Linked DNA regions of Homo sapiens: region 1 is linked to region 2. Evidence: fine-mapped expression QTL. A gene starts in region 2. The other region holds a variant in brackets. All regions are shown on one strand. Distances are between the middles of the regions. Region 1 overlaps PTPRJ (protein tyrosine phosphatase receptor type J). Region 2 holds the start of PTPRJ (protein tyrosine phosphatase receptor type J).

The links.
Region 1: its variant is fine-mapped to the expression of PTPRJ in monocytes after LPS (Quach 2016, PIP 0.95).

What each region holds. Positions count from the first base shown.
Region 1 is chr11:48,007,178-48,011,425 of GRCh38, forward strand. All of the region lies in intron 1 of PTPRJ (protein tyrosine phosphatase receptor type J), which reads left to right. Among named protein-coding and RNA genes, the nearest start is that of PTPRJ, 29 kb to the left of the region's middle. The variant A/G (reference allele first, on the strand shown) is at 1,911.
Region 2 is chr11:47,978,441-47,982,688 of GRCh38, forward strand. PTPRJ (protein tyrosine phosphatase receptor type J) reads left to right here and starts at 2,119. Exons shown (of 25, transcript NM_002843.4): 1 at 2,119-2,568. The coding sequence starts at 2,473. RefSeq lists silencers at 2,030-2,619, 2,720-3,149.

The DNA of each region.
Region 1 (4,248 bases), 29 kb after region 2:
GCAAGCTCCGCCTCCCGGGTTCACGCCATTCTCCTGCCTCAGCCTCCCGAGTAGCTGGGACTACAGGTGCCTGCCACCACGCCCGGCTAATTTTTTGTATTTTTTTTTTTTTTAGTAGAGATGGGTTTTCACCATGTTAGCCAGGTTGGTCTCGATCTCCTGACGTCGTGATCCGCCCACCTCGGCCTCCCAAAGTGCTGGGATTACAGGCATGAGCCACCACACGGGGCCAGGCCTTTTTCTTTTCTTTTTTTTTTCCTCACTGTGTCACCCAGACTGTAGTGCAGTGGCACAATCTTGGTGCAACCTCCGTCTCCCAGGTTCAAGCGATTCTTGTGCCTCAGCCTCCTGAGTAGCTGGGATTACAAGCATGTGCCACCACACCTGGCTAATTTTTCTATTTTTAGCAGAGATGGGGTTTTGCCATGCTGGCCAGGGTGATCTTGAACTCCAGACCTCAAGTGATCTGCCCGCCTCCCAGAATGCTGGGATTACAGGTGTGAGCCACTGCACCCGGCTGAGGCCTTTTTCTTCTGTGCGTTCCTGCTGTCTTCCCTCCAGGCAGCAGCAAGCTGGTAGGAGCTGTACTTGTGAGTTGACATCATGATGTACAGTCACTGGTCACTTATAAAACTGGGCAGGCCCAGAGCAGGAAGGGTCATTGAGGGTCATCTAATGCAAACCGTTTACTTTAGAGATGTTGAAACCAAGGCGCAGAGAGGGGAAGTGACTTGCCCAAGACCACACAGCTAATATCACTGTGAGCCCAGGTTCCTGGCTCCAGTTCCTGGTTCTTTCTGCCCCCTTCTTCCCGACACTAAAGATACAGTGGTGAGCACACAGGGTATTCAGTAACGTATCTATTTTTGACCTGTTTTTAATGGAGGCTGAATTGGGCTTTTAGGGTTGAGTTCTGACACGTGCCAGGTGATCTGCTGGAGGGAAATCTGTTACTTCTGGGGAAGAGTTGAAGGTGTCTTCTGAACTCTGGAATCTGTTTTGAGGGGAGGCTGAGCCCATGCGTGGACCCTTAGGCTGAGCCCATGCCTGCTTCAGATGTTCCACACCTTTCACCACAATTTATTTATTTATTTATTTTTTGAGACGGAGTCTCGCTCTGTGGCCCAGGCTGGAGTGCAGTGGCGTGATCTTGGCTCACTGCAACCTCCGCCTCCTGGGTTTAAGCAATTCTCTGCCTCATCCTCCCGAGTAGCAGGGATTACAGGCATGTGCCACCACGCCCAGCTAATTTTTGTATTTTTAGTAGAGACGGGGTTTCACCATCTTGGCCAGGCTGGTCTTGAACTTCTGACCTCGTGATCCAACTGCCTCGGCCTCCCAAAGTGCTGGGATTACAGGCGTGAGCCACCATGCCTGGCCTATTTATTTATTTTTTATTTTTTTGAGTTGAAGTTTTGCTCTTGTTGCCCAGGCTGGAGTGCAATGGTGTGGTCTTGGCTCACTGCAACCTCCGCCTCCCAGGTTCAAGCGATTCTCCTGCCTCAGTCTCCCAAGTAGCTGAGATTACAGGCATGCGCCACCACGCCCGGCTAATTTTTGTATTTTTCATAGAGGTGGGGTTTCACCATGTTGGCCAGGCTGATCTAGAACTCCTGATCTCAGGTGATCCACCCACCTCAGCTTCCCAAAGTGCTAGGATTACAGTCGTGAGCCACCATGCCTGGCCACACCCCGGTTTATTGCATTTGCTTCTAATAGAGAAATCAACCCAGTAAACAAATGAATTATTGTTAGCAAAACTGGGGGGTGGGTTGGGAAAGGAAAGTAGTTCCTTCTATAATAAAACTTGCTGATATTTCGTTGAAAGTCATTGTCTTACTCATCCTTGTATAAGATAAGTCACACAATGAGTGGTATCAGGGTTGCAGGGTTTCCCCCTGTGAGGACAC[A/G]ATGGGATGAACCGTGTGTGGGATGGTCTGTTAAAGAAAAACAAGAAGCCATGTGTTGGAAACAACCTAAGTATTGAGCGGTGGAGGATTGCTGAAATTGTGGACTACTATGCAGTCATTACCAACGCACTGAAAAAATGTTCCATGATATGGCAGGATGTTTATGCTATAAGAAATTTAAAGACGCGAGCTTCAAAGTAAAGTATAAACCTAATTTGGTCAAACAGGCTGGGCGCAGTGGCTCACGACTGTAATCCTAGCACTTTGGGAGGCCGAGGCAGGTGGGTCGTTGGAGGTCAGGAGTTCGAGACCATCCTGGCCAGTATGGCGAGACCCCATCTCTACTAAAAATACAAAAACTAGCTGGGTATGGTGGCTCATGCCTGTAATCCCAGCTACTCAGGGGTCTGAGGCAGAAGGATCACTTGAACCTGGGAGGCGGAGGGTGTAGCGAGCCGAGATTGTGCCACTGCACTCCAGCCTGGGCAATAGAGCGAGACTCTGTCTCAAAAAAAAAATATTGGTTAAAGAAACAAACGTTAGACTTGAAGCCGTGCTTTATATGGATATGTGGTGCACTATAATGTGGTGCTTAAAAAGCAACTTAGGCAGACCTGGGCCAAGTCTGGGCTCTGCCACGTAACTGCTATGTGCCCCTGGGCAAGTCACTGGATCTTTCCCAGTTCAGGCTTCTCAGCTGTTAAGTGGGACTAGTACCTTATCTCTTTGGGTTGTTGTGAGAATTAAATGAGCTATCTGGGCTTTCAGAGAAAGGGCTTCATGTGCCGTGGCTCTGATCAGACCAAACAAGTTATCTACTGCTCTAAGCCATCAAGGCCCCCCATGCCTGTTGGATACTGTTGAGTTATTTGGGTTGGCATGTAGTGCAGCGTTTCTGGACATACATACTCTGGGGACTCCCCATCCCAAATTTCTTACAGTCTCTCCAGTGTGCCACACGCTTTCTTGCCACTAGGTCCTTGCATGTGATGGAGTAACTCTTGTACCTCTGTCTCCCTAAATAGACGGGGTTCTCCAAGGACATCGTGCCACAGGGCCTGGTAACCCAGTAGGTGCTCAGTAATTTATTTATTTATTTATTTTTTTTGAGACAGAGTCTAGCTCTGTCGCCCAGGCTGGAGTAGAGTGGCGTTATCACGGCTCACTGCAACCTCCCACTCCCAGCTTCAAGCAGTCCTCCTGCCTCAGCCTCCTGAGTAGCTGGGATTACAGGCGGGTGCCACCACGCCCGGCTTATTTTTTATATTTTTAGTAGAGATAGGGTTTCGCCATGTTGGCCAGGCTGGTCTCAAACTCCTGACCTCAAGTGATCCGCCCGTCTCAGCCTCCCAAAGTGCTGGGATTACAGGGTGAACCACTGCGCGGCCCATTAGGTGCTCAGTAATTTGTTGAATGAATTGAAGACATGGGACTTGAGTTAGGCTTTTATTATTATTATTATTTTTTGAGACGGAGTCTCACTCTGTCACCCAGTCTGGGAGTGCAGTGGCGTGATCTTGGCGCACTGCAACCTCCGCCTCCTGGGTTCAAGTGATTCTCCTGTCTTAGCTTCTTGAGTAGCTGGGATTACAGGCATGCCACCACGCCCAGGTAATTTTTGTATTTTTAGTAGAGATGAGGTTTCATCATGTTGGCCAGGCTGGTCTCGAACTCCTGACCTCAGGTGATCCACCTGCCTTGGCCTCCTAAAGTGCTGGAAATATAGGTGTGAGCCACCATGCCTGGCCTATTATTATTATTATTATTATTATTTTGGAGATAGGGTTTTTCTGTGTGGCTCAGGCTGGACTTGAATTCCTGAGCCCAAGTCATCCTTCCGCTTCAGCCAATTGAGTAGCTGGGATTACAGGTGCACTGTCCCTCCCAGCAAGTTGGGTCTTTAAATAAAGAGTGGGGTTTGGTGAGCAGGGTGGGTGCACTGTTCTAGGAGGTGGGCAGGACAGAGGTCAGTGGTGGTCCCTACTGCCTATTCAGGGACCAGGGCCCCTGGGCAAAGGCAGAGATAACATTGGCACAATCTGCCTTTCAGCTTTCATTGTCATGCGGGAGTCACCATGCTTTGTAAGACATTTAATCTATAAGACTTGATTAGTTTTGCTACCTTTCATAGCTTGGGGCTGTGTATGCCTGTTTGTAAGAGAGATCCATCCAGATCAAGCCTGTGCAGCAATAATGTATGTGCACAAGGCCTCTTGTGTTGTGCTGATGGTAAGATAGGAGCTGGACTTGGAGGCAGGAGGTGGCCTGGGTTCTGTTTCTGGACTTACCACTTACTAGACGGGTACTCTTGAGTGGAGTCACTTAAGAAAGTAATGCC
Region 2 (4,248 bases):
CCCTCTGGGTATCATGGACATGAACACCTTTTATGTCTCTGCCTCAAGAGGGGAGGAGGCACAGAGGAACAAAAATCCTTGTGAATTATGATAATTACATAGTGTTTAAATGAAGGGTGGCAAGGTGTGTAAGTCCATAGGTAAGGTTTCTTTTTTCTTTTTCTTTTCTTTTTTTTGAGATGGAGTCTCACTCTGTCACCCAGGCTGGAGTGCAGTGGTGCAATCTTGGCTCACTGCAACCTCCGTCTCCCGGGTTCAAGCGATTCTCCTGCCCTCAGCCTCTGGAGTAGCTGAGATTACAGGCACGCCATCACGCCCAGCTAACTTTTGTATTTTTAGTAGAGATGGGTTTTCACCATGTTGGCCAAGCTGGTCTCGCACTCCTGACCTCAAGTGATCTGCCTGCCCCGGCCTCCTGAAGTGCTGGGGTTACAGGTGTGGTGTGAGCCACCACGCCCAGCCTCTTCTTTTTTTTTTTTTTTTTTTTGAGACAGGTTTTCACGTTATTCCCCAGGTTGGAGTGCAGTGTTGCCATCTTGGTTTACTGCAGCCTAGGTTCAAGCCATCCTTGTATCGGCCTCCCAGGTAGCTTAGTCTACAGCTGTGTGCCACCACACCCGGCTAATTTTTGTAGAAACTGGGTTTCACCCCGTTGCCCAGGCTGGTTTCGAACTCTTGAGCTTAAGTGATCTAGTCACCTTGGCCTCCGGAAGTGCTGGGATTACAGGCGTGAGCCATCGTGCGGCCTGGCAAAGTTTCTTTATCCTCAGTGCTTGTCTGGGTGTGTTGTCTGGTGGGAACCACTTAGACCCTGTAAGTGAATGTGTATTCCCATCTTGTAGATGGTAACCTGAGGCCCAACGGGTGTCTGGAGGTAGTGTTGGACACCTCGTGGTCTGCATCTTGCTGCACACAGAATCCAGCCTAGACTCATTATCCTGGCCTTTGAAGTCTCCCCCAGTATGAATCCCCCAGCCTCCCATTCCTGTTTCTCCGAAGGCCAAGCTCGAAGCATCTGCTGCCTCGTTTCTGCCAAGTTGGCCCCACCTCCTGAGACACTTCTCCCCTCTACTGGCCTGGTGAAACTCAACACATCCTTCAAAGCCCAGCTCAGGTGTCACCTCTCTCCTGGTTGGAATTAACCTCTTCCTCCTTAGCACTCTCTGGTTTGGCCCTTTCTCTTGCGGCTTCTCCTGGGCAAGTGGCATAGCCTCCCTGATCCTAGTGTCTTCCTCTGTGCATGGGCACAGGAGTAATATCTGCTGTGATCTTTAACTCCTGTCAGTTCATTGACCTCTTTAACAACGTGATGAAAGCTTCCAGAAGAGCTAATGTATGTGGAGTCCCACGATGTGTCAGGCTAGGTGTTTAGGACTTTACTAACTACTGTCTCGTTTAATCGCGAATGCAGTGGACCTCTCTCTCCACACGTCCTAGTACGATCTTTATTTCACACGGGAGGAGAGGAGGGTGGGTGGGGTCGGCCAGAGAGGAGAAATGCGTCTCCAGAGTTCACAGGGCTGGTACTACCAGCAGAGCCCCGTCCACCATATGCCACAGCTGGGGTTCTAATCCCTGGACTGGCTTGTACTGGGCTCTCTGCCTCCCTGGCCGGCGCTCGGGGGCTGGGGGACAGAACACAATGTACAGCGTGCCTTCTACAATTTCGGGGTTCACGCACCCCCAAGCCCACCCAGGGCCAGGTCAAACGCGCCTTCGCCGGGTTGCTGTCTACAATCAGGCTTGGCTGCGCTCTCAGTAGGGGTCTCGGTCAACCTCTGCCCACCCGAACCCGGCGCCGTGGACCTGGTGTGAGGCTGGGGAGCCCGTCCTGAGGGGTGCCGGCTCGAGGCGCTAGAGCCACGGAGCCTGGTCCCGGGCTCCAAGTCCCAGGAATGTGGGAGGGCTGGGCGGAGGGGCGGGCGAGGCGGGAGCGCTTCCTCTGCCCGCGGGAGGGGATCCGCGGCCGGCTCGGAGGGGGCGGGGGCAGCGGCGGGCGGCGGCGAGGGGCTGCGGAGCTCCGCAGCCGCCGGGCCGGCCGGGGCGGGAGGAAGCGATGAATATTCAGAGGGGGAGGGGAAGGGAGGGGGCCGAGCGCTCGCCGCGGCTCCCTGCAGCAGCCCCAGCCGCATGACGCGCGGAGGAGGCAGCGGGAGCAGCCGCGGGAGCCGGGACCGGGTAGCCGCGCGCTGGGGGTGGGCGCCGCTCGCTCCGCCCCGCGAAGCCCCTGCGCGCTCAGGGACGCGGCCCCCCCGCGGCAGCCGCGCTAGGCTCCGGCGTGTGGCCGCGGCCGCCGCCGCCGCTGCCATGTCTCCGGGGAAGCCCGGGGCGGGCGGAGCGGGGACGAGGCGGACCGGCTGGCGGAGGAGGAGGCGAAGGAGACGGCAGGAGGCGGCGACGACGGTGCCCGGGCTCGGGCGCACGGCGGGGCCCGATTCGCGCGTCCGGGGCACGTTCCAGGGCGCGCGGGGCATGAAGCCGGCGGCGCGGGAGGCGCGGCTGCCTCCGCGCTCGCCCGGGCTGCGCTGGGCGCTGCCGCTGCTGCTGCTGCTGCTGCGCCTGGGCCAGGTAAGCGCCGGGTGGGCTCGGGCGGGGGGCAGGAGGCTGGGGCGGGACTGGCATTGACTGCACCTGCCCGAGCGTACCCCCCCGGGGGGTTCCGGGGAAGGGGGCGGGGGTCCGGATCCCCGGATCCCCGGAAGGCGACTTGCGGGGACCCCGGCCGGCCTCGCACGCCGGCGATCGATCCCTTTTCCGGCTGCCCAGGATCGGGGGAGAGAGGCGGGATCCGGGTGCCGCGGTGCCCGAGCCTCCCGGGGAAAGCCTCCGCGCGGGCTCCAGGCCGTCCCTGGCCCGGCTCTTCCCGGCGCTGGGCACATCTGGCGGGCACGGGCCCGGCTTCCTAGCCGGAGGCGGCCGGAGGGGGCGTGTTTGCGGAGGTCTGGGGACGCAGAGCCGGGCGGCCTGGCTGAGCCTTTGCCGACAGACCTCCGACCCGGCCTGCAGGGGCCCGAGGGGCGGCGGGGGCGACAGGGCAGGGCCAGGCGCTGGGCAGTGGGGCCCTGGGCGAGGCGCGGGACTCCGGGCCGAGGGCCCTGTTCCTGGGGAAAGTTCCCAGGCCGGGGAAAAGGTGGCCGCACGCTGGCTTTTCTCAAGGCAGCCGGCCCTCTTGGCGTCGTGCTTGATTTCATGGGTGTTTAATTCGTGCTTTGTGGGCGCTGGCTCCCCCTCCCCACCCCACCCTCACCCTCTTTTCTGGCTTCACTTTTCAGATAATGCTGTCCCTGGCGTTTTGGTGACCGACCTTTCCCCTTCCTGGCATTTCCATAGGGGCTGAGGCAGAGCAGCTGAAGGGGCATTCCCATTTCACAGATGGGGAACTGAGGGAGAGAAGTGAAATAGCGGAGCACCCAGCCCGTGCCATGGGAGCTGAGCCAGCGGGCACGTCCTCTTAGCCTCTGGAGCCTGTTGGGGTTTGAACCCGCAGGGGAAGCGGTCTAGGGCTGCCTTGCTGTGCGTTTCTGCAAATGACCATCTTGCTTGTTTTATACAGACACCATCTCTGAGGAAATGAGTTATTGGCTGGGGATGGAACCTGGTTTCAGGGAAAACTTCTCCAGCGCGAATACAGGAGAGAGCAGAAGCATCACCCTGGGGCAGCAATGCCGCCTAGCAGGCTGTAGGAGAAGGGGGCTGGGGCCTGGGGGCTGCGTGACCCTCGGCACCCAAGGGTCTCTCCTCGCAGTTTCCCCAGCAGGTTCTGCACAGGCTCTCCTGGGGGCCAGAAGGCAATGTGACCTCCTGCAGAGAACCTGGGAGTAGATGTCAGGAGACTGGCTCCAGGGCCGGGCCACAGGGCTGGACTTGCTCTTCAGGCTTCTCTACCCTCAGTTAACCGCATCTGTAGAATGAGTATAGCACCCTCTGCCCAATGGAATTGTTTGAGGGGCTTCCACTGGCCAATGTCTAAAAGAACTTTGTAAATATTAAGGGTTTCCACATGGGATTCTCATTATTAAGGTACAGTGCCTGTGGGGGCTGTCTTCTCCCTGTCCATGTAAGGAAATTCAGGGAAGCAGTGTCTGAAGTTAAAAAAGCCTTGTATTTGAAGATTTCTTGTATCAAAAGTTTATGCTAAAACAAAAACCACAAAAAACAGAAAACCCCCAAACTTAAAGCTTCATTTATTTTTAAATGTATAATATATGTAATTTTTTTTTTGCTTCAGCAAAAAAATTTTAAATTATA